Homo sapiens: one gene and its partners. The protein of the gene in region 1 interacts with the protein of each later gene in a pairwise test. Each region holds a gene or a part of one and is shown on either strand. Other genes may lie near its edges. The genes, in order: LASP1, KRTAP4-2, TJP2 and UFSP1.

The links.
Region 2: the proteins of LASP1 (region 1) and KRTAP4-2 interact in binary tests that used the Homo sapiens proteins (3 or more experiments, as listed by UniProt).
Region 3: the proteins of LASP1 (region 1) and TJP2 interact in binary tests that used the Homo sapiens proteins (3 or more experiments, as listed by UniProt).
Region 4: the proteins of LASP1 (region 1) and UFSP1 interact in binary tests that used the Homo sapiens proteins (3 or more experiments, as listed by UniProt).

Annotation. Positions count from the first base shown.
Region 1 is NC_000017.11:38,893,354-38,901,326, forward strand, and holds part of LASP1 (LIM and SH3 domain protein 1), read left to right. Parts: intron 1-3,548; exon of another isoform or gene 3,549-3,718; intron 3,719-5,058; coding exon 5,059-5,166; intron 5,167-7,973. UniProt on the Homo sapiens protein: Plays an important role in the regulation of dynamic actin-based, cytoskeletal activities.
Region 2 is NC_000017.11:41,176,573-41,182,826, reverse strand, and holds KRTAP4-2 (keratin-associated protein 4-2), read left to right. Parts: upstream 1-4,605; 5' UTR 4,606-4,662; coding exon 4,663-5,073; 3' UTR 5,074-5,381; downstream 5,382-6,254. UniProt on the Homo sapiens protein: In the hair cortex, hair keratin intermediate filaments are embedded in an interfilamentous matrix, consisting of hair keratin-associated proteins (KRTAP), which are essential for the formation of a rigid and resistant hair shaft through their extensive disulfide bond cross-linking with abundant cysteine residues of hair keratins.
Region 3 is NC_000009.12:69,247,175-69,255,147, reverse strand, and holds part of TJP2 (tight junction protein 2), read right to left. Parts: intron 7,137-7,973; coding exon 6,924-7,136; intron 5,774-6,923; coding exon 5,663-5,773; intron 4,114-5,662; coding exon 3,784-4,113; intron 2,334-3,783; coding exon 2,248-2,333; intron 940-2,247; coding exon 774-939; 3' UTR 1-773. UniProt on the Homo sapiens protein: Plays a role in tight junctions and adherens junctions. Acts as a positive regulator of RANKL-induced osteoclast differentiation, potentially via mediating downstream transcriptional activity.
Region 4 is NC_000007.14:100,887,248-100,894,504, forward strand, and holds UFSP1 (ufm1-specific protease 1), read right to left. Parts: upstream 2,469-7,257; 5' UTR 2,253-2,468; coding exon 1,596-2,252; 3' UTR 1,474-1,595; downstream 1-1,473. Other genes in the region: SRRT (serrate RNA effector molecule homolog), read left to right, coding at 73-266, 456-612, 795-896, 1,010-1,136, 1,227-1,302; ACHE (acetylcholinesterase), read right to left, coding at 2,967-3,088, 3,922-4,091, 5,087-5,571, 5,918-7,008.

The DNA of each region.
Region 1 (7,973 bases):
CCCAAGAATCTGCATTTTGACTCCCCCGTGATTCTGATAAGGACTTTTGGCCCCACTTTAAGAAGCTTAGAGATGGGTCCATGGGCAGGAGTGTACCGACCCTGTTTGTATGCTCTGAGGGGTGCCACATTAGGGTAGGGCTTTGCACTAAGGGCACGGCTCTGTTCCCCTGAGGTGGGGGTCCTCGGGGGTTGGGGGCTGAGGGCAGGATAGGCAGGGGAGGAAAGGGTACTGCCCTTTTTGCAGGCCTGTTCTGTCTCCCTTCCCACCGCCCACCAGCTGTGTGGTCTGAGACTGGCCTCAGACTGTCTTTCCTCTCATAGCTTTGCTTCCTCACCAGTAAAATGAGGACAGCAAACCCAGTTGCCTCAAGCTGGGGGCTGGGCCTGATGCTTTGAGGCTTGGAAGGGCTGAGCCGGCCAGGCTGGAGCAGTGACGGGTTCTGGTTCCTGTGGCTGCCGTGGGGGCAGAGCTGGAGAGAGCTGCCTGCGGCTAGCAGGAAGGGAAGGGGGAGCCTCTTCTGCTCACCCAGCTTCACCCCACGGGGTCAGCTGGCTTCTCTCCATGCCCCTTCTGGGCCTGCCTTGCCCTTCCCTGTCTCTGGGAAGCTGCCCAGGCTATTTCAGCTTTATTTATTTTCCCATCTCTATATTGGTCTCCAAAATGGCACTTTGGGTGTCTGGGACACCTGGAGCCTCCCCTGTGGAGGAGGTAACCACAGAACTGTCCAGAAATGACCCTCTCGGTGGTCCTGCCCAGGCCTGGCTGAGGCAGGGGGCTGGCAGCTGGACCCCCAGCCCCCCTTCTCACTTGCTGCTCCTATCCCACCCCCAGGCTGAGCAGAGGCAGTGGCTTTGGGGTGGGACTGAGCTGGAGGTGTCTGTATGGCCCTGAGCCCAGGCAGAAGTGCCAAGTGCCAGTAGACTGTTCTTCCATTTTTTCCTTCATCAACTCACCTTGATGGGGTCATGGGAAATTACAGGGGGGTTTCTATCCTCCTCGGATCTTGTAAGCAGCACGGGTGGTAGAGTATCACTCTTACCCGAACTAGCTGGCCTGAGATTGAATCTCGCATCTGCTGCCACCAGCTGTGTGACCTTGGGCAAGTTGCTTAACCTCTGTGCACAGTGCCTTCGTCTGAATAATGTGGATTACCTCTCTCCAGAGGGTGGTGTGAGATAGGAGGATATGTTAAGCATTTAAAGATTCCTGACGTGGAGTCAGCATTCAGTGTTTGCTACTACTGTTCTCCCGGAAAGGAGAGGAAATGGAACTTGGACATGAAGAAGCTGGGAAATACACACAGCAACCTTTTGACCATGACTTCCAGCCCCGGCCCTTTCCATCAGCTCTCCTCTCCATCTGTGTGTGTCTAATTTTTTTTTTAAATTTGTATTTTTTTGAGACAGGGTCTCTCTCTGTCTCCCAGGCTGGAATGCAGTGGCGTGATCTTGGCTCATTGCAGCCTTGACTTCCCAGACTCAAGCGATTTTCTCGCCTCCACCTCCTGAATAGCTGGGACTACAGGCGTGCATCACCATGCCCGGCTAATTTTTGTATTTTTAGTAGAGACAGGGTTTCGTCATGTTGCCCAGGCTTGTTTCAAACTCCTGACCTCAAGTGATCTGCCCACCTCAGCCTCCCAAAGTGCTGGGATTACAGGTGTCAGCCACCGCGCCCTGCCTAAATTTTAAAAACTAGTGTTTCTTTTTTGTTAGAAGGGGATGGGTTACAAAGTATGTTGGCCCAACACATGGTAGGCACATAATAGTGGAAATTGTATTTCGCTCAATAAATTTTGTATTTTTTTAGAGATTTTTATTAATTTTTTTTTTTTTTAAATAGAGATGGGGTACTATGTTCCCAGGCTGGTCTCGAACTCCTGGGCTCGAGTGATCCACCTGTCTTGGCCTCCTAGACTGCTGGGATTACAGACATGAGCCATTTTGTTTTTTAAGTCCAGCCTAATTTTTGTGTTTTTTTTTTAGACGGAGTTTTACTCTGTCGCCCAGCCTGGAGTACAGTGTCACCATCTCAGCTCACTGCAACCTCCGGCTCCCAGGTTCAAGGAATTCTCCTGCCTCAGCCTCCCAAGTAGCTGGGATTACGCCCACCACGCCCGGCTAACTTTTTTTGTATTTTTTTTAGTAGAGATGGGGTTTCAGCATGTTAGGCTGGTCATGAACTCCTGACCTCAGGTGATCCACCCACCTCTGCCTCCCAAAGTGGTGGGATTACAGGCGTGAGCCACCGTGCCTGGCATAATTTTTGTTTTTAAGTAATGATCCTTCTTCTTATATTGGGTCATCAAGGCAGTTGTTTTCCCAATTATGCTGCTTTGTTTGGAGATTACGTGTCTGCATTCAATTCATTCATGATCCAACAAATGTTGATCTGCACCTCCTGTCTGCTGGGATGAGAAGCAAGATAGATCCAGGGAGAACAACTAAGAACTGACAGAAAAATTAGAGTTTCACGGATGGTGGTTGTTTGGGTGTCAGGAGCCTCAGATGTCAGTCAGTCCTGGGCCTGACAGCAGAGTTTCCAAAATGGGAGCCCAGGTATCTCCCAGGAGTGGGGTCCTCTGGGAGCCCAGGCATCTCCCAGAAGTGGGGTCCTCTGACCGAAGCGCTGAGTTGCATCCTGGCCTGAGCGACAACTGGGTTGTGACCTTGGGCAGGTCCCTTCCTCCACAGGGACCCCCACAGCACCCTGGTGAGCCATCCTAGACAACAGGGGCAAGCACTCCTGCCAGGGCAAGAAGGGAGCCCTGAAGAGGGGCTCTGGGCTGGGCCCTCCCTACACCCCTGGCCCCCCACCCTTCACTTCTGCCACCCCTTCCATACCCAAAGACCTTTCAAAGAGCCTCCCTGTCTTGATTATCCATAGTCAGGGTCTGAAGGTGCTTTAAAATGGTCACAGACTCCAAATGGGAGGGATTTTAGAGATCAGCTAGCCAGCTCCCTTCAGGGGACCCAGAGAGGGGAACTGACTTGCTTAGAAACACACAGCAAGGTGGTGCTGATCCCAGGCTCCCTCCCTTCTCAGCCCCTACCCCTCACCCCTACCCTCTGTGGGCCTCCTATGTTAGCAGTGAAATGAATGATCCTTCCCCAACAGGGAGGGGGAGGCAGAAGCAGTTCCCGATCCTGGGAACCTGCTGATGTCATTGCAGCGTCGCCATGGCGATTATTCCCCTGGATTAGGGGCCTGACCCTTGCAAAGCCAGGAAGCAGGGGACGGAGTGGGGGACTGGCACTCGTTCAGCACTTCATTGCTGACAGAGCACTTTCACACTGGCCCTCCACAGTGCGCTGCTGCTTTAGAGCCACTGTCTGTATCGTGGGTTGGAGTGACTGGCGTTATGGTCCCCATTTTACAGATGTGGGAACTGAGTCTTGAGATGTGAAGTCGTTGGCCCAAGATCACTCAGAAGTGGGAGACTGAGCCTGCGTTAGTGCTAGCTCCGCCTGGCTTTGTGCCCAGACTTGGTGATAAGAAGCCCCCTCCCCATATTATACCTGATTTCTGTCACAACTCTTTTACAGATGAAGAAACCGAGGCCAGGGGCTTGAGATGCAGGGCTTCTGTATCTGGAGCTACATTTCTCTGCCTCTGAGTGCCCTACCTTCCCCGATGCCCGCTTCCCAAAGGGCCTCCCACTAAGAGTCACCGTGCTGGCCCAGGGCTTCCAGGACTGAGGAAGAGCTGGTGCTAGGCAGGTTCTGGACTCTTGGGGTGGGTTGGTGCCTCTATCCACTGCATTCACTTCTGAACTAATGGGGAACAGCACATCCAAGCCCTTCTTGTCTGGATCAGAACAGAGAAGGAGAGGGAACCACATGGATGAGTGACTGGGGGCTTCAGGAGACAAACAAGGACTCTGACCCCCACAGGCATGTGCAGAGGACCTGACAGGTGTGGCCGTGGCTGCATGCGCATGCGCAGTCGCTCCAGTCCAAGCACAGCTCGGTGCTGCTGCCAGATGATTCCCTGCCAGGGAACTGCCTGGGTTTGTGTCCTGGGCTGACCTGTGTCCAGGACAGTGCAGCCCCCGTGGAGGAAATCCAAGCAGCTGGTGGGGTCTGGAACAGATGGCTGATGAGGTGGACAGTGAAGTCTCTGGAAGCCAAGGAATAGTTTCCTGTTCCATGAGTTTTCTCAGCCTCATTCTGTTCTTCAAAACCCTCAGGGGAGGACAAGCTGTTCCTCATATTTCAATTCCTTTCGTGCCAGGGAAGTCCTTTCTGATGTCTGACTTGAGTCCCTCTAGTACTGTGGTGGGGTGGAAGGGTTCTTCCCTGGAGCTTGGAGACCTGCTGAGATGCTGTCTGACCCCCGCTGCTTTCCTCCCCTCCTATGGCGGTGGCCTCTGAAGCCATCCCGGCAGGCTCCCAGAATCCGCGGGGCCTGTCAAAGGCGCACTGATGGAGCCTTCCCTGGGGCTGTCTCACCACCCTCCTTTCTGGGCACCAACTCTGTCCTTTGGCACAGCCCTCACTCAGCTGGTTGCTGAAAAGCTCCCCCAGGCGTAGTGGGCAGGGCCACATCCTGGCTAACATGAGGGCTGGGGCCACCCTGGGAGCCCTGGAAAGAACCTTTTTCCTATAAGCTTCCAGACAGGATGGGCAGGGAGTGAAGGGTCAAGAGTCAGGCAGATGAGGGTTTGCACTCTGGTAGTGCCGGACATTGACTGCTAAGCTCTGTGACCTTGGGCAGGGGACTTTGCCTTTCTGTGGCTCCGTTTCCTGATCCGTAAATTGGAGCTGTTAATTGCGTGGCTATATGTATGGTGGGATCTAAATGAGATGGTTCATGTAAGGCCCTGGACTCTGTGCCTGCCATTCACTGTGCACCAAAGACTTGGTAGTGGCTTATTATTACGAGTCTAACACCTTTTGGCTGAGGCCTCTGCTTTGAGTTGGGGACTTCTGATCAGGGTCTTTCTGCTGACTCCCTGTCCCTGTCTCCTGACTGGTTGCTGCCTCAGAGGGGCCCCAAGCCGAGGCCCTTTCGGCTCCTGGCCTGACTCCAATCCCTCTTCCTCCCCTCCTGCAGGTGCGCTACAAGGAGGAGTTTGAGAAGAACAAGGGCAAAGGTTTCAGCGTAGTGGCAGACACGCCCGAGCTCCAGAGAATCAAGAAGACCCAGGACCAGATCAGTAACGTGAGCTCTTGCCCTGCCCTGCGGCATCCCTGCTGCCCTCTGTTTGGTCCCCTTCCTGCCAGCCTGGCAGACGCAAGCCTGGCAGATGTGAATGAGGCCAGTGCCTCCACTACCCCTGCCCTCCAGGGTGGGCCTGGGGAAGAGCTTGGGGTTCCCAGATGCCTCTTCTCTGTGTACCCCCAGACCACCAGCACGCATAGCATTTTCTTCTTGAAGGGACTGTATTCTGTGGGGGCCTGTGTGCTAAATCAGCCCCCACTCTCTCTGACTGTTGTTCTTTTTTCTGGATATCGTGGGTATCGGTGAAGACTGCATGTCTCATCTTAGCACAAAGGTCAAAACTGGGGGGCGGGGAGCACCTGGCCTCCCCTGGTCTGCGCCTGGGTGCTGACATTGCAGTCATTTCCGCCCTTCCTTGGCCTCCTCCCCCACATCAGCCTGCTCTTCCTTCCTGTGTAAAAACCCCAGCCAGCTTCACCCGCCAGCCCTGCACCCCCTGGCTCACACCCCCCGCCTCCCTGATGGTCAGTGGCATCTGGCTGTGGCAGGGGTGGGCATGGAGAGTGGGCAGGGGATCAACTGTCCCCAGCATCGTGTGCCCTCCATGGCACCTGTGGCCAGAGAACAGGCCTCAGTTTCCTGCTTGGCAGAGCCACAGGCAAGCAGCCTGTGTGGCTTTAGGCATGCGGGGGCAGGGCACTGCGGTGAGCAGCAACCATGGGGGATGCGCACACAGAACTGCAGGGGCTGCCCAGCCAGCCTGGCCTAGGAGGTCCTGCCAGGGAGGGTTTAGGCAGGCAGCTGTCTTCGTGTCTGGAACAGGAAGGGATCAGTGAGCTGCCCATTGTTGCTCTGGGCTGAGGAACTGGGGATAGAGATTGCCGGGGGAGCCTGGCTTTCCGGTGGTCTCAGCACCCACTCCCTGGGCTCCACATCCCTTCCTACCCTCCACCTGGCCACCTCAGCAGGGCGCTCCTTTAAGAGCTTGGCTGGGCCGTGCATAGAGTGGGCTGCAGTGGTGGGTCAGGTGGATTTCAGAAGCACAGGCAGCCCACAGACAGCAGAACCAGCCATGCCCAAAATGGTGGCTTTCAAACTCTGACTTCAGCCTACAGTAAAATATACATTGTACGTCTTGACCCATCTGACAGGCATACATTTATGTAGAGGGAAAACAGAATGGAAGCTTTCATGAATGAGTACTTCCTACTTAGAGGGCGTTCAGATCTTTTTTTTTTTTTTTGAGACAGAGTCTCACTCTGTTGCTCAGGCTGGAGTGCAGTGGTGCTCCGCCTCCAGGGTTCAAGTGATTCTCCTGCCTTAGCCTCCCAAGTGGAGTAGCTGGGATTACAGGTGCACACCACCACCCCCGGCCAATTTTTGTATTTTTGGTAGAGACAGGGTTTCACCATGTTGGCCAGGCTGGTCTTGAACACCTGACCTCAGGTGATGTGCCCGCCTTGGCCTCCCAAAGTGCTAAGATTACAGGTGTGAGCCACCGCACCCGGCCACATTCAGATCTTTTCTAAAGATGCTGGTTGCAGGCCCCTATACACCCTCACATAATACAGCCCCTTTGAGGACTGTATTCCCAACACTTTGGGAGACTGAGGTGGGAGGATTGCTTGAGCCCAGGAGTTTGAGACTAGCCTGGGCAACATAGCAAAACTGTTTCTACAAAAAAAAAAAAAAAAAAAAAAAAATACAAAAACTAGCCAGGCATGATAGCACACGCCTGTGGTCCTAGCTATTCAGGAGGCTGAAGTGGGAGGATCACCTGAGCCCAGAGGTTTGAGGTTATAGTGAGCCGTAATTGCACCACTGCATTCCAGCCTGGGAAACCGAGTGAGACCCTGTTTCCAAAAAAAAAAAGGACCAGGCGCGGTGGCTCATGCCTGTAATCCCAGCACTTTGAGAGGCTGAGGTGGGCGGATCATGAGGTCAAGAGATCGAGACCATCCTGGCCAACATGGTGAAACCCCATCTCTACTAAAAATACAAAAATTAGCTGGGCGTGGTGGCGTGTGCCTGTAATCCCAGCTACTTGGGAGGCTGAGACAGAAGAACCGCTTGAACTCGGGAGGCAGAGGTTGCAGTGAGTCGAGATCGGGCCACTGCACTCCAGCCTGGCGACAGAGCAAGACTCCATCTCAAAAAAAAACCAAAAAGATGCTGGTTGCAGACTTACTGTGAATGGGTTTTGCAACTGGACTGTTGACCTGCAGTTTGAAGTTGGTGGCCTGAGGAAATGGCATGCTTCCCTTTGGCTAGCAGGGGATGCCTAGGGCGGGCACTCTAATCCTCCTTCCCCTCCAACTTCCAGAGGCCTGTCACAGTTGACTCTTTATATGCTAGGGCCTGGCCTCACGCCCTGGAGCTTCCCTTTGGCTCAGACCCTGCAAAGGGTAAGACCCTTAGGTCTGTGTTTCAGAGCTCTCGGCTTGGAAAGTGGGGGAGGGGGAAGATGGTCTTAGATTATGGGGAAAACCCGGAATGGTTCACAGAACTGGAATGTCGGCTCTTCAGCCTCTGCGGCTTTTCATGTAGAGGCTCTAGTCTTTTATCAGTGACACTTGCTCCCAATGTGCAACCCCAGCTCCCTGGCTGTTCACTCATTGCTTCACCCTGTGGGTTTTGGAGGAGGGGAGACAAGCCCAGTCATCCCTGCTTCCCTTTCTGGAAGGCTTCCAGAACACTCCACACTCAGCCTAAGCCACCTCCTCTTCTTCCCTCCCCCAGTTAGAGGTGTTAATATCCTAGTGACAAAACTCACCACCCTGGCCAAGCCATCCGCATCTCAGGAGATA
Region 2 (6,254 bases), 2.3 Mb from region 1:
AAATACCAATTACTGTCCACACTTGTCTGGGATAGGCAAAGCAAATTGTCAAGAAATGTTATCTGTTTTGTCTTTATAGCGTGTGTCACCATGTTTACAGCAGCCTCTCATCTCCCCATGACAAGTGAATGTTTTACCCAAGGCAGCCTAGCTCCAAGGCAGCCATCTGGTTGTTTCCTCTGCTCTTTAGCAACTACTTTCCCTTTTGGAAGTTCAAACTTATCACAGTTTCTCATGTCTTTGAGATAATTTCCATTCCATAACCAAATAATATCAATAGGCCCAAGAGTTAAGGACTTTAGTTAGAAGCAAAATTTAGACAAGGACGAAGAAGAAAATGGCAAAAATTAAAGTACATTATCATATCAGTAGAGCAATATAACATTAGTGTCATAAAGAAAGTCACATTCTTTTTTTTTTTTTTTTGAGATGGAGTCTCACTGTGTCGCCCAGGCTGGAGTGCAGTGGCGCGATCTTGGCTCACTGAAATCTCTGCCTCCCGGGTTCACGCCATTCTCCTGCCTCAGCCTCCTGAGTAGCTGGGACTACAGGCACCCACCACCGTGCCCGGCTAAATTTTTGTATTTTTAGTAGAGACAGGGTTTCACCGTGTTAGCCAGGATGGTCTCGATCTCCTGACCTCATGATCCACCTGCCTCGGGCTCCCAAAGTGCTGGGATTACAGGCATGAGCCACCATGCCCGGCCAAGGCTTTTAAGAGTTTCTTAACCAACCTTCTATTTTCTTTCTGGATGAAAGAGTTCTAATATTTTATTCTTTCTTGTAAGGGTATCGCTCTATTCTTATGAGAATCTAAATACACTTTTCTGGGTAAACATTAGCTTATGTCTCAGTTAAATTTTGAAATGAACATAGGCACAAAACAGGCAAGATGTGTTGCCAGAAGTATAAAAATGCAGGTTGTATTTATTCCTGTGGCCTATCTAATTATGGCTAATATTTGGAGGACTTTGGTGCATTCAGCACTAACCTAGTAATATGGTTGTTGGGAAAAATAATTTTTGAAGAGTTTATATCACTGTTTTAAGTCATAATTTAGGTTAGACAGAAATGTCTTTCGGGTATTTGTGGCTGGGTATTTTATTTTGAATTGCTTCTCTCCTAGGAGGAGCATGTAGGGAAAATTACTATATCTTATAGGATCCATACTCTTAAAAATGGGATTTTACATGACTGAACCTGAGGACAATTACAAATTTTAAAAGATAAGCATGAACATGGATGGGAGGGATAAAGGATAACAATGAGTCATCAAGTAAAAGGGAATCAAAAAAAAGTCATAAATGTATAGGTTTGTAAACTGGAAGTCACGTTAGAGATATCTAACCCAGAGATTTTCAAACAGTGAAGTTTGCCATTGAGTAGAGCCCAGAAATTGACTTAAAAGTCTATACATGGCTCACTCCTGTAATCCCAGCATTTTGGGAGGCAGAGGCAGGTGGATCACGAGGTCAGGAGATCGAGACCATCCTGGCTAACACGGTGAAACACTATCTCTACTAAAAATACAAAAAATTAGCCAGGCATGGTGGCGGGCACCTGTAGTCCCAGCTACTCAGGAGGCTGAGGCAGGAGAATGGCGTGAACTGGGGAGGCAGAGCTTGCAGTGAGCCAAGATAGCGCCACTGCACTCTGGCCTGGGCGAAAGAGCGAGACTCCATCTCAAAAAAAAAAAGTCTATACAAATTAATTATATCCTAAAGCTGGTGTCTTAAAAGCAGTATGGAAAGGATTACTTCAAATATACTATAAAACAGGTAGCCAAATTCAGGAATAAACGAAGGAAAGGGAAAAAAGCAAGAAAGAATAAAAGGGATTAATGAAAGATGTACAGAATGAAGAAAAAAAGGAGAGATTTTCATTTGTTAAATCAAAACAAATTTCATCCAGATAAAATATTCAACATAAAAATGAAACCGTTCAGTGGCCACACCTAACCGTGGATCCCAGCCAGTAGCCACAGCTGCACAAAAGCCCAGGCAGCAGCCCCACTGAACCTCAGGGCCTGGGCAGGAGTTTTACCCACCCAGAGACCCCCAAGAGTAAGCCCTGCCTGTTCACAAATGCTACCAGCTTCCCCGTCCAGAATCCCAGGCCGAGTTGACTGCTGAGAGTCTTTCCCTGCTGAAGGGAACTTGTAAAGTGTGGAAGAGGAGACTGTGTCCTCAAAGGCACAAACACCAATGTAAGATTGCAAGGATTTTACACACACACACACACACACACTGAAATGTTATTAGCCATGAAATGAAGAAAATCCTGTCATTTGGGACAACATGGATGGACTTTGAGGACATTATGCTAAGTGAAGTAGGTCAGACAATGAAAGACAAATAATCTCATTTACATGTGGAATCTAAAAACTCATAGAAACAGAGGGTAGAATGGTGATTGTCAAAGGTTGTGGATGGAGGAAATGAGGAAATGTTGGTCAAAGGGAGAAAATATTCATTTATAAGAAGAATAGGTTCTGAGGATCTAATGTACAGCATGGTCACTGTAGTTAATTACACTGTATTGTATATTTAAAATTTGCTGAAAGACTAGATCTAAAATGTTCTCACTACACACACTCAAAAAATGGTAACTATGTGAAGTGGTGGAGGTGAACTAATTTGATCATGACAATAATTTCACAATATATACATATCAGAGCATCAGGGTGTACACCTTATATACATACAATTTTATATTTCAATTATAGCTGAGTAGAGGTAGAAAAAATGAAATTGTTAAAGTACTAGAAGAAATCGTGAGAGATTCCTAAATATAATGTAAATTTATCTTAAGGAAAACACACACACACACACACACACTCACACACACTCACATCATGAAGAAAAATAGTTAATATAAAGTGATCTCTACTGAATCATCAGCAGGCACCAATCGTCACGGCTTCTCAAGGGCACGATTCTTTTCCAGAATACAAGGTCTCCTGGAAATCTTAGAGTTGTTCTCGTACACCACCATGGGGCTCACAGGGTCTTAATTCCACAGCATCATGGAACCCACTTTCATCCCTCAATAAAATATGATGTCTGGGTACATCAGAGCCAGAGAACAGTGCAGGCTCAGAACACCAGCCAGCGCACCAAGCAGGGGTTCACTTGGGAGCCCAAGTTGTTTTCATTCTGCTTGAATCACCTGGAAATTAGGGCCAGGGCAGGAGTAGGAACTGGCTTGGAACATAGCAGCATCATAAGAACACCACAATTTGATTTATTAGACTTATAAGCACCTGAGAGAAGAAAGGGAATCTCCCTCATTCATCCAATCCCCTCCATCTGGTTCTTGGATCTCCCTCAGAAACACCAGCTTACACTGAAACTCCTCCCCTGATTATCTGCAGAGGCTGCCCAGTTCATAAAACATTTCTATCATGGTAAGTCAGACATTTTTCCACCCCCTTCCCTGGGTTCCTTGACTCCTCAGGGGTGGGGAAATACATATATATTTATTAACTGATGAGTTAATGAATTGACAACATAGCACATTTTTGAAACAATAGTCAGCCATCCCTACATGAAAAAATATAGGCTGATATCCTTTGTTCTTGATACCTGTTTTCTGCTTTCTTTCTCTCTTTATTGATTTATTTTTTGAAAACAAAGATGTAAAGTGTGAAATTGGATCAACAACTTCTATAAGGAAGCAGCAGAGTATAGGACATCTTCAAGGCCCAGCAATTCAGCAGAGAAAGCAAGAGGGCTGGGAGCGAATTAGAGCAAGCAAAGGATACTGAGTCATCTAATTTGGGTTGGCCAGAAAATTTTGGAACCTGGAGAGATGAGCTCATGTGCCCTGTTAGAGCTAGGAAGGCAGAAAGGCAAAGTCACAAGGAAAATCTGCCCCAGGGAGCAAAAAAATGAGGGACTTGGACCTTTAAGTATAGCTGTTCTCTGAAGCCAACATTCCCCAAGAGGCCCTGAATCTGAATTTTGGAGGGTTGTTTCTGTAGAAAAGGAAACATCAAACTTTCACAGCTTAGTTTTCCACCTTAAAACAGCTCTGTATTTCTCATCAGAAGGTCTAGAAAATGGGTCACAATTCAGAGTGCGGAAGATAAAAAAGCGATAGGTCCTACGGTGTTCTCGTTCTCACACCAGTGGTCATCTGTTTCACACTGAAATCTGTTTCACACTGAAACCTTCACAGGCCATCTGACCCATAATGAAGGAGCCATCAGACTGAAATGCAGCTTTATCCTCCTGAGTCACCAGAAAGAGTCAAGGGCCTGTAAGAATAGTAATCACCCAAGAGTAGTCATGATGTGTTAAGCAAATGAGACTGAAGCACATAGTATGTGCTTACAGGCAGATGTCACATGGCTGCTCTAGGAGGAAGCTATAGTAAGAGAGACACAGGAGGTGGTTCAGGAAGAGCTGAGCTAAGGAGTCCTAACACATTAGGGAAAGGAGACAGTGTTTCCATCTATGTGGATAAGTTAACCAGAACAACAAACTTGCCTAATTTGATAATTGCCTACATATCAGGACAAATAATAACAAGGAAAGAGTGTTGCATCTGATGACATCAGGCCTTAGCAGGGTATAAAAGAGGATCTGGGGCAAGGAAACTTCCAAACCTTCCAAACCCACCTTCCTGGAAATCCACCCAGAACCTCCACCCTCTGACACCATGGTCAACTCCTGTTGTGGCTCTGTGTGCTCTGACCAGGGCTGTGGCCTAGAGAACTGCTGCCGTCCCAGCTGCTGCCAGACCACCTGCTGCAGGACCACCTGCTGCCGCCCCAGCTGCTGTGTGTCCAGCTGCTGCAGACCGCAGTGCTGCCAGTCTGTGTGCTGCCAGCCCACCTGCTGCAGCCCCAGCTGCTGCCAGACCACTTGCTGCAGGACCACCTGCTGCCGTCCCAGCTGCTGTGTGTCCAGCTGCTTCAGACCCCAGTGCTGCCAGTCTGTGTACTGCCAGCCCACCTGCTGCCGCCCCAGCTGTGGCCAGACCACCTGCTGCAGGACCACCTGCTACCGCCCCAGCTGCTGTGTGTCCACCTGCTGCCGCCCAACCTGCTCTAGTGGCTCTTGCTGCTGATGCCCTCACCTATACTCACCTGCCTTTATTAACCAGCATTCTTGATATGATCCACCTGTGAACTGAATCATGCAAGGCCAATTGGACAACCTCAGTTCCAACCAATTCTTGGATTGAGTTTGGCCTCCAAATATGCTCACCAAACACTATGTTGCTACCCTCTACCAAATGAATACAAGTTTGAATTTTCTCTGAAATATGTCAACCCCATGTTCCCTGAATTGAAATATTTGCTCTCTACCATAATTTATCACATGGAGCTATTCCTCTATCTTAAATAAATTTTAATTTTTGAGGCATACAAATAATATACGGGCATTGTGTCTCATTTTTCCTTCTTGAATTCTCATCCTTACCTGTCAAATTTTCTGATGTTCTTCCCTGCAGAGGGAGAAGACCACAGCAGATGATATCAGGGGCTCCACCTCTATCCTATCAGCACTCTCCATTCAAACATAGGAAAATGGTTCCTTAGAGCAGGCACCTGGAACTCTCTACCTGAGGACTTTCTCTGGATAAAGGAGCAAACTCTGGGCTGGAGACTTAAAGCCTCTAGGAACAGCACTCAGAGAATGAGTGGGAGTTGGTAATATATGCCCTGGCTTGTTTCCCTCCAGTGGGGGGTATGTCAAACCAGTCTTCCAGAGGTCTTCAGCGGGATTTATACCAGATGCCTGCAGGAACATTCTGATCATGAACTCACTCTATAATGACTTTCCCTCCTTCCCAGGGTCATTCTTCAAGTTTCCTCCAGTGTTTCTTGGGTTAATCGTCCAAATATACCACATGTTCTCAGATCCTCTTTTGTGGGTTTGCCCCAGAGAGCACACAATCTAAAACAGCAGCATTCCTAATCTCAGTATTAGTGTCCTTCAAAATGTTTTTGTACAATATGAATGGTTACCATAGATTTTGATCAACTCTTGAGTTTACTGTCACCTGAATGGACACCTCTGAACATTTTGCTGTTTTTTTTCTTTTCAATTTTTGCGCATTACAATTTTTTTCTATTATTTGTTCATTTACTTTTTTGGTCTTCTTTTAAGAATTTTAATTTTTAAAGTTTTTATTTCAATATGCATGTTTGCTTTTAAACTAGTTGTCTTTGATTGTTTTTTTCTTCACATCGTTTTATCTGAGGGATAGGACACAACCACCGTGTTGGTGATTCTCATCCTAAA
Region 3 (7,973 bases), on another chromosome or scaffold:
GCTTTTGGAAATAGTGTTTTCCTCAAGTATCTGCTTTTGTGCAGCACTTGGGTTTAAACAAACAACAAATTTCGATACCAACTTCTTGGGCTTCAAGCTATTGAGCACTTATAGCCAAACTATCAAGTATAGTTATGATATAGACAGTCCAAATTTATGGAAAATATTACAAAGACAAATGCCTTGAAAAGATGACACAGTGCAGGGAAAACTACAGCTATTAAGCTGGTATAAAAACTTAGTCAAAATGTTTTAGTCCATTATGGCTCTGCCTAAAGCTTCAAAGGAAGAAAATTTAAGACACTTCTCATCCAAGGCACTTAAAAGAGTTGCAATAAAGTACTTCTTTGAATTTAGTTTGAGCCCAACAGTATTTTTTATTCCTTTTTCACATTCTGACTCACACTGAAACAGTCCTTGAAGGCAGCTATTAATGAGGAAAAATAGTTATTGCTTCTTAATATACATATTACAAGTACGCAAACAGAATACAGATTTCGGTCCACTGAAGCAAGTAACAGGATCTGACTGCAGTGTTCTGCTTAATTCTGAACAAAAAGCCACAGACTCCTCTAACCCAGTCCCACAAACAGAGCCCTCAGTTCTGAATTTGCACCAGCTGTCCCCTGGGTTCTCCATGAGGACACACGAGCTGGAGTCCCACCACGTCTCCATGGTGCATTCTAACTGGAGAAGAACCATCCCGGCGGCCTGGCAGGAGTGGCTAGTCTGATGCCATGCAGGCAGGCCTGGGAGAGTCCGTGCTCAGACATCTATAATTCTGTGTCCCGGTATCGGGCAGACTGGCCATAGTAACCGCGCTTGGAGTGTTCTGACAGCTGCTGGCGGTACTCCTCCTCCTCGGCATCACTGCCATAACTTCCTCTGGTATCCTGATAAGGTCTGGAAGGAGCTTTCTGTGGCTCAGGGGGTCTGGAACTAACAAAAAAAGGGTGTTAAAGACATTCCAGAGCACATCCATGTCCTCCGGCTGCCCGGGGAGGCATGGCTCTGAGCACAGTGACTGGGTATCCCGAGCAGATCACTTACCTCTGAGCCACATTCTGCAGAGCAACCAGGGCATCCCTGGTCCTGCTCCAGGTTCGTAATAGGTCAAATCCAATGCCCACTTCGGCGGTGAGTGAGGAAGCCAGCCAGGTGCTCCCTGACCTAAGAATCTCCCTGTTGGACAGGGGGTGCCCTCCTTACCCCTAAGCTCCCTGGCTAGTCTCACCCAGCAGCGAGGTCTCTGCCAGTTTCAGTCCATCATAACCAAGAACTCTTTGTTGCCAGAGGCAACCTGGTTGACTGTGTTACCACTCAGCTGGTAAAGAAGAAATTTGTTTCCAGTTTTCTATCACTGGAAAACTAGACTTCAGCTTCCAGTCAGAATGGCCACAAGAGGCTGGGTACAGTGGTTCACACCTGTAATCCTAGCACTTTGGGAGGCCGAGGCGGGCGGAGGTCAGGAGTTTGAGACCAGCCTGGCCAACATGGTGAAACCCTGTCTCTATTAAAAATACAAAAACTAGCTGGATATGGTGGCACACACCTGTAATCCCAGCTACCCGGGAGGCTGAGGCACGAGAATCGCTTGAACCTGAGAGACGGAGGTTGCAGTGAGCTGAGATTGCACCAGTGCACTTCAGCCTGGGCGACAGTCACTCTGTCTCCAAAAAAAACAAAAGAATGGCCACAAGAAAATGTGACTTTTTTTTTTCTATTCTCGGAAGCAGGAAGCAATCCAGTATAAAACTTCAACAGGAAGACACTGTGAACATTCCTACTGTTTGTGTGGCATTTACCAAGACTGCTCATTTGCTTGTCACGGTCCCTTTAGACCCCAGGGCAGCACAAGCGGTCTGACTTTGCTGGATGATGCAAAGGAATTAAGAAGTTTGGCTGAGAGTCAGCAAACAAGACAAAACAGGTCTAAGCCGTAGGAATTCTGCTCATGTGCTAACCATGTGCAATGTAACATAACCAGGCTCCAATGTGTCAAATGTACTGGCTGGAAACATCAATGATTACACTTTGTCAGAGTTTTAGCACACAAGCAAACTATGCTTAAGTTTTGACTCTGTAATCTTTACAATTAAATTTGATGGAATGAGTAAGGCAAACAGTCAATCTGTGGGGAAAAAATCCTCCTGTTACTCTGAAATTTGGGTAAAGGAAATTCTTTCTTCAAGTCCCAGTCCTTGAGAAGTCCCCGCCTTAGACCTGTACCCACTAGGCAGCCCTTACCTCGTGTGCTGGGGCGTGCCAGGGTCTGGCTTGTGCGTTTTGATTGGAACTGCATAGATATCAGGATGCTTCTGGGCAATTTCGATCTGTGGTAATTAAAAAAGAAAAGAATAAGAGTGAAAGAATGAACCACTGGGCACTCTGCTTGCTGGTTTCCTGCTGGTCCCACCCTTTCCCCATATCCTACTTATTTTCCCATCCCATTTCAAGAAGAGGAAACACAGAAGCGGCCTCCTCATTTCCATGGTTATGTGCGGTACACGTCAGACAGGAAAACTATTTAAAAGGAATGAAACTCTGACACATGCTACAACCTGGATGAACCTTGAGGACATCATGCTAAGGGAAATAAGCCAATCACAAAAAGACAAATAGTGTATGATTCTACTTATAGGAGGTTCCTACACTGTCCAATTCACAAAAAACAGAAAGTAAAGGAGTGGGTGCCAGGGACTGCGGGGAGAGGAGAGTGGTGAGTTAGTATTTTATGGGTACGGAGTTTCACGTGGGAAGGATAAAAAAGTTTTGGGGATGGATGGTGGTGATGGCTGAACAGCAATGTGAAGGTACTTAATGCCGCTGAACCGAACGTTTTAAAATGGTTGAGGCTGGGTGCAGTGACTCATGATTGTAATCCTAGCACTTTGGGAGGCTGAGGAGGGTGCATTGCTTGAGCCCAGGAGTTCGAGACCAGCCTAGCAACATGACAAAACCTTGTCTCTTCAAAAAATACGAAAAATTAGCTGGGTGCAGTGGCATGTGCCTGTGGTTACAGCTATTCAGGAGGCTGAGGTGGGAGTATCTCCTGAGCCTGAGAGGTGGAGGCTGCTGCGAGCTGTGATCACACTGCTACACTCCAGCCGGGGTGACAGAGGGAGACCCTGTCTCAAAACAAAACAAAACAAAACAAAATAAATAAAAGAAAAAAGTGGTTGAAATGGTAAATTTTATGTTATGTATATTTTACGACAAGAAAAGAAAAATGCTCAGATGTACTGCTGCTGTTGTGCTAGACCTGAAAGAAAACTCCCACATCTACTGGGCAAATATACTCCACAGACCTTTAGTTAAATTCTTCTTTGTTTGAAAAGTTCTATGTGCATATGGTATACAAATTCAAACAGCTCAAAAAGTACAATCTATGGGCCTTTCTGTTTTAGCACCCAGTTTGCTTGGTTTCTACGGCAAATCTGGGAGCCAATGAAGACACGTTTAAGAAAAAAAAATCACATTCTAATTAAAACGACTTCCGAGAGGCACTGATTCCCTCCTCACACTTCCTCATTCCAGAACTCTATACAAAGTTCTGTGTATAAAGAGCAGAATCTTCTTCCCCTATATTGTCAAGTTTTCTTCTTTGGAAGAACAAGGGACGTGCTGGGAGCTGGCAATCTGAAGTGACATACACAGCACCTGCCTTTGGTGCAGTGCATCCCTGCCACATCTGCAGCAGCAGCAAAGGGGCTGTTCGCTGTTATGTTGAAATCAAACTTATTTAAAACTCTTATTGATGATGTGTAGTTTAAAAACAATTACCCTTGCATTCTGTGCTTCCTGGAGCTCCTGCATTCTCTGTAACCTGGCCTTGTGATCCATCTTCTCAAATATTTTGACTTTGCCCAGGACTGATTTGGGAGCATTATCTTGCTCCTCACTGCTCTCTCCCACCTCCTCACCCTCTTGAGGAGGGATGGGAGTGGAGGGCTTCAGTATAGACCGCCCAAAGGTAGGTTTTGCTGCAACAGGAGGAGGATAACCTTTGGTAGATGCCCCAGGAGTTTCATTACCAGCAACGGCAGAGGGGTTTGACTTATATTCATAGGATTTGGAGAAGTCATAGGATTCTTCTTTGTTCTGGGTTTTGGCCTGCGGAGAGCAATGACACGTTTTCACCCTGGGCTTTTAAGTTTATTTTCAAATCTATATTAGTGATTTAATACACTCCATTTCCTGATCAGTTTCCAAAGGTGGTCCACAAATACCATTCTGACAAGGAATGTAATACAGCAGGGCAAACAGCCACTGGCCAGGCTTCCTGAGCCCTACCTCCCTTCCTATACTAGTCTATTAGGAATGTCAGGAAGCCAAAAAGGAATAGGGAAAGTGCTGGGAGGGCTGTGATTGCTGGAGGTAAGATCAGACCTGGAATAATTTTGTTCTAGAGGAGATCAGCATCTTGGAGAAGATCTCAGAACAATTCAGGCTTTGGGACTCGAAGAGTGGGCTTCTGAGGTCACTGCTGCACTGAGGGTACATGAGCCGGCCCAGGTGAGACCCATGTCCAGCTGAGGAATGAGACTGGGGTGGGGAGCGAGGAGAGCACTGCTTCACGCTAACAGCCACTTTTCCTTCACACTTCCAGTCTTGCCCGGCTTGCAAATTTTCGCTGATGTATTTTATGAGGTCACTTATTATTACTTAGTACCTATCACATTTACTACTTCTGATGGCTCACACAATCAATTATGGCTTTCTTCTCATCTAAATTATTGAGTTAGGCTGGGCGCAGTGGCTCACGCCTGTAATCCCAGCACTGTGGGAGGCCGAAGTGGGTGGATCACCTGAGGCCAGGAGTTCGAGACCAGCCTGGCCAACATGTCGAAACCCCATCTCTACTAAAAATACAAAAATTAGCTGAATATAGTGGTGCACACCTCTAAGTCCCAGCTACTCGGGAGGCTGAGGCAGGAGAATCACTTGAACCCAGGAGGTGGAGGTTGCAGTGAGCCGAGATTGCACCACTGCACTCCAGCCTGGGCAACAGAGTGAGACTCTGTCTCAAAAAATAGTAATAATAAATAATAAATTATTGAGTTAAATAGGTTTTATTCTGGTATAAGGAAAAACATAGAGTCACAGCTCTGATTCTGACTAAAGGTAAATAATCTTTTGATATAAGCCCTTGTGTCTTTATATTGATTCTGCTCTGGATAATGATTTATTAAACAAATAAGCAGCTCTCTTAATGAGAGGCATTGTAAGCAGTGGTGATGATTATTCTCTTTAGCACATCACCAGTAAGAATTATCTGGTGCATCTAAATCAGACTGGGCAGAAAACTTTAGCTGGACAGCAAAAGAAAAACACGTTCTGCGATTGGTGATTCTGGGTATACAGTACAGTATTTTTCAATCTTTTTCTTTACAATCTTTTTTTAACAAGAAGAGTAAATTAAATAAACACTAACAGTCCTAAAATCATATGCTCTCCTAATATTGCCTTTCCTTCCTTTTTGCCCTTCCCTAATTTGGGAGTTCACCCAACAGGCCAAAAGATAGGCTCTAATAGAGAACACAGTGAGTCAGAACCGTAATTAAACACCATCTCAGTGTGCATGCTCCTCCCTGGCCGTCCAGGAGGCTTCAGAGGCATCTGCTTCCTCTTCCTTCCCATCCTGGGCTTCCCAGCCACGTACCTTGGGCGGCTCTGGCTTGAATGCTGGGGGCGGGCTATTGTCCCTAAGTTGATCGCTGCTAGCAGCCCTCCTCATCTGAGCTCGTGGCTCTGGGCTGGGTTTCCTTATGCTCTACAAGACATAAAGGTTCATTCACAACAAGAACATCCAAGCAGAGAGAACAGAGCACTCGACTGCTTTGGAGGAGTTCTGCAAACTTGAGTAAGTCCAGAAGTTGAGGTTCTGAGCCGGTGCTTCTTTACTGAACAGGCAGAAACCATCACCAAATGCTTCAGACACATTTTTAAAAACTGGCTGCATCCAATGTAGAGTCTCTTCCTTTAAAGCACAATTTTTTAAGAACCCTCCAAAAGTCTAAAATCTCTTGTGTCACTAATATCCATGTCTATAGGCATTTGGAAGTTAATTTATTCTTTACAAGTTGTCTAGCATAAACTAATTTGTTGCTGTGGTAATGGTGTATTTTTCTCCCCCTTCAGTTTGTTGTTGTTGAACTTTTTTTTTTTTTTTTTTTTGGTAGTTCTATTTCATAAAGAAAAAAATCATTTACTGGAATGAGCTAAAATGCTAGAGAGAAATCCACAGCAATAATTATCCAAATATATGAACAATCCCATCTTCAAAGATCATTATTCCAACATTCTCTGAGGTGCAACTAATAATTGCTAACTTGGCTGTGACTTTACAGTGCCTGTCAATGTGATTTCAAGGATCCCATAAGCTATCTAATCACAGTGGATGCACAGTACATGTGATGTGATCAGATGAAGGTTTGATCATGAACTCAATTAAAAAACTGAAATATAAGAGAGAAGGAAACTGATGGGGAAACACTCAAGAGCTTTGGCAAGATTAGAAAGGTTAAAGGCAGGATGGGGAAGAAAAGCAAGGACATCTAAGAGTACAGAGAGAAACCTAATCAAAGGTTACAAGTACATACAACAATACTGCATGGGAAGGAAGGTTCCGCTGGTAATTTGGACAGACGGCACCTAAAGCCATTCTGTTTATCCATCGCACCTGAGGGCATGGGTGTGCGGAGTGCTGACCCCTCAAGCTCTTCTGAAGTCCACCTGCCTGCCCCACTTTCCCACAGACTGCAACCATGCCAGCGTGGACTCAAAGCGAGAGACTCCCTGGAAGTCATCTGCTCCAACCCTTAGGAATGCCTTCCACAGCACCCTGAACACACAGCTGTCCACGAGAGTGCAAGGAAAACACCAGGCTCTCCTGTTCCTGCCCGTGGCCTGCCTCGCCTCACCTCCTCGTGCTGCACCGGCTCCGAGGAGCGGGTGATGGACGACACCAGCGGCTCCTCGGCTGGCTCATCCAGCTCATTGTCAGTGTAGGCGCCTCCTTCACCGTCCGTGTCTTCAAAGTCACTGATGAGGCGGCTGTCGCAACTCAGATAGTCCGCGCCCATGGCGGTTAAGTAGGACATGCGGTCTTCGGGGTCATCATCCATCCCTTCCATCTAGAGGAATTTGTGTTGGACGGTCAGTGGGGTCTGATGTGGCTCCTGGGAGTGGGGACTCAAGAAAATTCCCAAGGACACAGCCAAGCGACTGAAACCTTGATGTGCTCGCCAGGGAAGGCATCTTTTATTTTTCTCCCTGAGATCACTTGGCTTTGGTACAATGTTGATATTATGGTCGTTTTTGTGCAGGAACTCAAATTAGGGGCCCTGCAGCCTATCTGTGCTACCATCCATCCTCCATACCGCGGCTAAGCCACACTTTCTCAGTCTGTCTTGCTTTTCTTCTGAATCCAGCTCCTCTGCAGCCTGTTCTCCTGGTACCACTCTCCTAGTAATATCAACACATTGCACGCTGCCTTGTGCTACACTCACATCCATGCCTCTACAAGATTCTCAGACCCTCAAAGGCAGAAGCTATGTCCTGTTCAACCTGTCCTCCCCAGGGAAGCTTGCATCCCCCTTCCAAACTGGAAGCACTCCATAGATGCCAGATACTTTGACTACACATCTAGTTCTCAAAGAGCAAAACTTAGTCAATTCTGCAACAAAATAGTCACTGTCAAGTCTCACAAAACTACCTCAGTTCAGCTGGTGAACAGGATACTAACACCAAAAGCTTCTAAAATAAAAGCGGCCACAGGTAATAGAATCTCCCTCTCTCCTCCCTGCAGCACAGCTGTGTGTGAGCTATCTCCCCGAGGGAGAAGCGATCCAATTCTAGAGGCCTAGACAAATTCCCTAACGTTCTCATATCACCCATTCAAACTCCCAGAACGATGGCACATTCTCAACCAACCTTATTTTCTAAGTAATTCTAACTCCATTAGCTTTTCT
Region 4 (7,257 bases), on another chromosome or scaffold:
CTCCAGCCCCTTGCCACCATCCTTCCTTCTGGCTCCCTTGCCAACCTTCCTTCCTCTGTTCCCAAACCACAGTGCTGGAGTGGCAGAAGACTTTTGAGGAGAAGCTCACGCCGTTGCTGAGTGTGCGGGAGTCACTCTCAGAGGAAGAGGCCCAGAAGATGGGGCGCAAAGACCCAGAGCAGGAAGTGGAGAAGTTCGTCACCTCCAACACGCAGGAACTGGGCAAGGATAAGTGGCTGTGTCCTCTCAGTGGCAAGAAATTCAAGGTGTGGGATGTTGGAGAATGGCCGTGCTACGGTGGTGGGAGGTGGGGTTGAGACAGGAAGCCCCCTGGGCAGGGGTGGGGGAACTGCTTACTGCACTGGCAGGCGGGAGCTGGGAATCCTTCCAGCTCGGGCCTGGGAGCGAGGCAACCCTTATGTGGCTGTCCTGACCCCTCTCCTCTCTCCACCCAGGGTCCTGAGTTTGTGCGCAAACATATCTTCAACAAGCATGCAGAGAAAATTGAGGAAGTGAAAAAGGAAGTCGCGTTTTTTAACAACTTCCTCACTGATGCTAAGCGCCCAGCTCTGCCTGAGATCAAGCCAGCCCAGCCACCTGGCCCCGCCCAGAGTAAGATACGATCCATGAAGGTCGCATGTGCCCTCTTCCTTGACTACCCAGGGACTCCTGTTTCTCTTTAACGTGTCACCCCGAGAAGTTTCTGCCCCATCCTCAGGCCATAGCCCTAGAAGTCAATTGTACCCGTATCCCCCTCCCCGCCCCCGCAGTAATTCATGTCCCTGTCCGTGTTGTACTCCCCCCAGGTTTGACCCCAGGACTCCCCTACCCACACCAGACTCCCCAGGGCCTGATGCCCTATGGTCAGCCCCGGCCCCCGATCTTGGGCTATGGAGGTAAGTACAGGAGGGAGATGAAGGGGCTTGGTGAGTGTGTGGCTTTGGGAGAAGAAAACAGAGGATGGAATTGAGGACATAGTTTTGCAACTCAACACTGATCTCTGTCATAGCTGGTGCTGTCCGCCCTGCAGTCCCCACAGGAGGCCCTCCATACCCCCATGCCCCGTATGGTGCTGGTCGAGGGAACTATGATGCCTTCCGAGGCCAGGGAGGTTATCCTGGGAAACCTCGCAACAGGTGAGGAGGGCAGACGCCCAAGCTTTGTTGCCGCCTGCAGACTCCCTTTTGGGAGCCCTCAGCTCTCATCCTGTACCTCTCACCTCACAGGATGGTTCGTGGAGACCCAAGGGCCATTGTGGAATATCGGGACCTGGATGCCCCAGACGATGTTGATTTCTTTTGAGCCGTCCCCCGTTCCTCAGTCCTGTATCATCCATACTTGTACTACCTTGTCCTATGAAGCTCTGAGAATTTTTTGTACGATCAGCCTTACTGCTAATAAAAGCACTTCCACAGGGCTCCTGACTCTCGTGTGTTACATAACTCCTCCATCCTTCCAGAGTAACTCCTGAGGTGTTGCTCAGCCCTGCCACTTTTATTATTGATGTCAAAAGCGCCAGGCTTTGCAGGGACACCAGTGGGAGGTACATAGGTGCGTGTCTGGGACCCGAGAATCTCAGTTCTGTAACTTCGTCCTCAGTCCAAGGTGCGCTGCTGCTGTTGGGAGCTAAGGCTGGTCAAGCACAGGTTGTAGAAGGAGTTGGGGTCAAAGGCTGCACTCACCTCTTGCCAGCCCACCCACCCAGCAGCCTGTAGTTCACTGGGGCTTTTTGGAGTGCCCCAGTAGTGAGGGTCCAATACCAGGACATAGGCTTCCGTGCCTGACCCTACGCAGACTCCCAGCAAGGCCTTGGACCTGGCATCTGCGTCCCCCCCAACCATGACTGGGCCCCCACCCCCTGCGAAGTGCGAGTAAAGCCTCTCCAGCTCCCCGTGCAGCCCCACTCCCCGGGGTACGTGGCAGAGGCGTCCCTGGGGCCCTCCGAAGTGAGCGAGGCAGAGGCTGGCCTCCACGCAGCCGATCCAGTCCCGGGAGCCCCGGAAGCCGGGGGGCTTGTCGCCCATGTCCTCCAGGGCCGCCTGTACGGCGGCCAGTCCAGGTACGCCCGCGGGCTGGCCCTCTGGCCACGAGCACAGCGTCTGCAGAGTGCGGTAGCCGCAGCCCCAGCCGCGGTCGTCCAGGCCGTCGCAGCCGTAGTGGTAGTAGAGGTAGTGGCCCGAGAGCAGCGCCAGGCGGACAGGGCCGCGGCTCGGCGGGGACAGGCCCACGTGGACGTCCCTCAGCGGCTCCAGGGCGGTGGGCGGGAGCGGAGGTCCCAGGCCAGGCACAGCGTCCTCCTAGCGGCGCGGAGCGACCTCAGGCTCCAACACTTCCTTTCGGCTCCGGGTCTTGGGCCAGCTGCCGCAGGACCGGCGCGCAGACTGGGGACGCGCTCCCCGGGCCTCGTTGATCACCGCAGGCCGCAATAGGCAGCCACCGACCGGCACCGACCGAGGAGCTCCCACAATGCTCCGCCGCGCCCCGCCCCGCCCCGCCCCTCCCCTCCCCTCCCCTCCCCTCCCCTCCCCTCTCCTCCCCTCCGCCGTGCCAGCTAGCCTGCCTGCGGGCCTCATTACGCAGGCGCGAGCTCCGCCCGGCAGGGCAGGGCTAGGGGTTGGCCTTTGCCTTGCGCCCGCCTCGGAGCTCGCCTGTTTCTTGCCCTCCAGCCCCGCTCCTGCATAGACTCGGCCCCCGTGATTCCGGCGTTCTGCCTCTACCCCTGGCTCCCTAGTCGCGCACACTCCCGTGGCTGTAACAGTTTATTGGCAGCCCAGAGGGGCGAAGGCACCGCGGGGGAGGGAGCTCAGCCTGAGACATGCAGAGGACCGGGAGCCCCGGGGGACGTCGGGGTGGGGTGGGGATGGGCAGAGTCTGGGGCTCGTCTGTGTTATAGCCCAGCCCTGAAATAAATAGTATATACAGCTAGGGGGCCGGGCGGAGCGGAGGACATGGGGGTCCCGCCGGGGTCACAGGTCTGAGCAGCGATCCTGCTTGCTGTAGTGGTCGAACTGGTTCTTCCAGTGCACCATGTAGGAGCTCCAGCGGTGGAACTCGGCCTTCCACTGGCGCTCCGCCTCGTCGAGCGTGTCTGCGGCCAGGGCGCCCAGCGAGGCGGGAGGGGAGGACGGCACGAGGAAGGTCGGGGATCGGACATTTGGGCGGGTTGAAGGGGGGGTATGAGTGCAGGGAGGACGCACGGAGAAATGCAGGCGACCACGTGGGACGGTGGCAAGAGGATCAGGAGAATGTGCGAAAGACGAGAGGGAGGATGAGGGCAGAGGCGGGGCCGGAGAAGGACAGCAGGAAGGAGAGAGGAGGAGAAAAGAATGACCGGAAGACGGGAACAGAGGGGACAGGAGGGGGAGGTTGGGGGAAAAAGAAGAGACAGAAATGGTTGACCGTTATAGCCCCAATGGGGGGTGCTACCCCGTCCGGGGCCTCCCACTTCCCCCCAATGTCAGGCTCAGGTTCCAAAAGATAATTTTATAAAAGAATACTGGCTTTTCCATTTCCATTCAAACAACAAAGGCGTGGGGGTCCCTGAGAAGGGTGGGAGGCACGGCCCCCTCCTCCTGCCCTGTCCAGTGTGAGTCTCTCGGTTTGAGGAGGAAGGGAGCACTAGGTCTGAGATCCCTGAGTGGGGCCCTTCCCCACGGTCCGACCACTCATTAGAGGAGGGGCCCCTGTGGCCGTAGGGGAAGAGGCCGTGTTCACAGCCGCCGGAGGTGGGAGAGGAAGAGGAGGAGAAGCTGGTGGAGGAGGAGGAGGGGCAGGGGGAGGCCGGGCCTCGGAGCAGCCTCCCCATGGGTGAAGCCTGGGCAGGTGCTGGGAGCCTCCGAGGCTAGGGGGAGAAGAGAGGGGTTACACCTGGCGGGCTCCCACTCCCCTCCTCCCAGCCGCTGCCCGCTGGCCCCTGCATACCGGTGGCGCTGAGCAATTTGGGGAGGAAGCGGTTCCAGAAGGCGCAGGCCTGGGCGCGCAGCCCCCGCCGCACCTCCAGCGGCCGCAGGTCCAGACTAACGTACTGCTGAGCCCCCGCCGTGTACGGGGGCCATTGTGGGGCCTTGGGGTCTCGGGGCTCATTGGGATCCCTGCGGAAGGAAGGGAAGGCTCAGTCCAGACGGGCAGTGGGAGGAGGTGGCCCCCAACTCCACGGGATCCCGGACTCTTCAGCTCAGCGGAGAGCCCCAGAGAACCCGTCCCCTCCCTCCCACCACTTTCTCCAATGTGCGCGGTCATTGGGGTCTTCCCTTCCTCAAGCGCTCCGTCTCCTTCCGTTTCCCTCAGCTTTTCTGTTCCATCTTTGTTTCTCTCACTAAAAAAATGGCTAGGATGTCTTGAGACTTTCCTAAATAACCAGGACGGGTCCTATGTCTACAAACATCACATTTTTTAACAACACCCATCCAATGCTAGATTTCATTGTCCTCTTCTCGATCCAGGTAAACTGGTGTGTGTGTGAGAGAATGTGTCACTGCTAGTGAATCATCACTGGTTTGACTTAATCCAGCTCCAACTCCTTTGTCTTGGTCTCCCTTTTTTTTTTTTTTTTTTTTTTCCAGAGATAGGGCCACTCAGGCTGGAGTGCAGTGGTGCCATCATAGCTCACTGCAGCCTCAACCTCCCAGGCTCAAGCAATCCTCCTGCCTCACCTTCCCAAGTAGCTGGGACTAGAGGCACGAGCCACCGTGCCTGGCTAAGTTTTGTATTTTTTTTCTTTTTAAGAGTCGGGGTCTTGTTATGTTGTCCAGTCTGGTCTCAAACTCCTGGCCTCAGGGGATCCTCCCACCTTGGCCTCCCAAAGGGCTGGAATTACAGGGGTGAGCCACTGTGCCCCGCCCCCTCCATGTCTACCTCGTCTCCTCCTCACTTTCCTTTGCCTCTGTCTCTGCAAGACCCCCTCTGCCTTCTCTGTCTCCTTTCTTTTTCTCTCCCCTTTTATCTACTTTGTGAGCATATCCCTCTCTGGCTGTTCTATCCTGCCCCTGTCCCACCCGTCCTTTCTGTCTCCGTGTGTCTGCCTTTGTGTGTCCTCCCGCCCCCGACTCCTGTCCTCCCCAGCCTTCTCTCCCTCTGCACTGCTGACCCTGTGCGGGCAAAGTTGGCCCAGTATCGCATCAGTCGCTGGGCGAAGATTTTCTCCTCTGCCGTGTAGTTTCGAGAGGGGTCCAGGGGGATCCCAAAGATGAACTCGATCTCGTAGCCGTGGGGCACCCCCATCCACAGGGGCCAGGAGAGCGTGGAAGCACGGTGTTCAAAGACGTAGGCGTAGACCCGGGCACCCTGGGCAGCCAGTCGCCCAGCCAGCTGGGCCACGGGGCACACGACATTGTGGTCGCCCACCACATCGCTCAGGGCCTCCCTCAGGCGTGCCGGGTCCTCGGGATGCAGCCAGTCTGTGTAATGCAGGACCACAGCCTCGGCTGCCAGGTCACTTACCTGGGGAACCCCGACCCGCACCCCGGCCAGGAACTCGGCCCGGCTGATGAGAGACTCGTTGTCTTTGCTGAAGCCTGGGGCCCCGTAAACCAGAAAATACGAGCCCTCATCCTTCACCACACCCACCAGCACCTGGGGGTGAGGGAGAGGGGGGTGGGATGGAGCGACAGGCACAGACAGACAAGTAGACAGAAACAGATGGACAGACAAAGAGCCAGAGAGATGAACAGTTACAGACCCGGAACCATGGACAGAGAGAGGACGAGATCAGGGGAGGGATGCAGAGAAAGAGAAAATAGACCCATGGTGGCTTTCCTGTCTGCCCTGCTGACCACCCTGGGATCTGAGCCCTCAGGGAGGACTTCTGGGACTTCTGGGAATGGGCCTGGAGAAGCCCTCATGCCTGGGTCCCTGCAGGGAGGGGAGGGACCGTTGGGACCCAGAGGAGCCAGCTTCACGCCAGCTAGCCACTAGTTACCTGCAGGCCGTGGAAGTCTCCCGCGTTGATGAGGGCCTCTGGGGTGTCACTGAGGAAGTCTCCATCTACCACAGGCACGAAGGAGAACCGGAAGACGCTTTCTTGAGGCAGCACGTGCCATTCGTGGTTCACCAGGACCTGCGCTGGTCGTGTCCGAAGGCAGGCTACCAGCTCTGTGTCATTCCCACCAGTGCCGCCTGGAGGACAGCCCACAAGGTGGGCCAGCTGCGTGGCCCTGCGACGGGCCTCTCCCATGCCCACCGTGGCCCAGGGTCCATTGGGGGCACCGCTCTGCAGCACGGCCCTGTGGAACAGGCCCCGGCTGGGCGGGGACAGCAGGTGCATGCCCACCGAGGCGGCTCCCGCGCTCTCCCCAAACAGCGTCACTGATGTCGGGTCACCCCCGAAGGCTGCCACGTTCTCCTGCACCCACTGCAGGGCCAGCCTCTGATCCAGGAGACCCACATTGCCCGGGGCCTCTCGGCTCCCCGGCAGGGCCAGGAAGCCAAAGGCTCCCACCCGGTAGTTCATGGACACCAGCACAGTCCTCTCGGCCTGTACCAAGAAGCGGCCATCGTACACGTCCAAGGAGGAGGCCCCACTGTAGAAGCCACCCCCATAGATCCAGACGAGGACAGGGGTGGGGGATGTAGGCCGGGGGTATGGTGTCCACACGTTGAGGTACAGGCAGTCCTCGCTCAGCTCACGGTTGGGGTTCCACATCTCGGTGCCCTCAAAACCTGGGTATAGGGTGTCCACATATTGGTAGCAGACACTCTGGAAGGTTGTAGCGTCTACCACCCCTGACCAAGGCTGCTTGGGCTCCGGTGGCAGAAAGCGACGGGGTCCCATGGGTGGCTCCGCAAAGGGGATGCCCAGGAAAGCAGAGACAGGGCCCCCGGGGGTCTTCAGGCGAATGCCCCGCAGCCGGCCCCCACGCACCGTCACCAGCAGCTCTGCATCCTCCCGGCCCTCAGCCCCCACTCCTCCACCCAGGAGCCAGAGGAGGAGGAGAAGGAGTGGGGAAGCCAGGGAAGGCGTGTGCAGCAGACACTGCGGGGGCCTCATGGCTGCAGGGCAGGCGGCGTCTGCTGGGAGAAAGAAAGGGAAAGGGTGAAGGGTCGGTCGAGAAGCCAGGAGGGAGGAGATTAGGGCACTGTCGGCCCAAGGGTTATCGCTCAGCTGCAGAGGAGGTGGGGCAGGTTGGCAAAGATGAGGGGAGAGAGGGAGGGAGGGAAGGAGACAGGCAGAGACAAGGACACAGGCCAGCGGGCAGGAGGGGAAAGAGATCAGGCAGACACCCATATCCAGACAAATGCAGGGAACAGAGAGGAGCACCC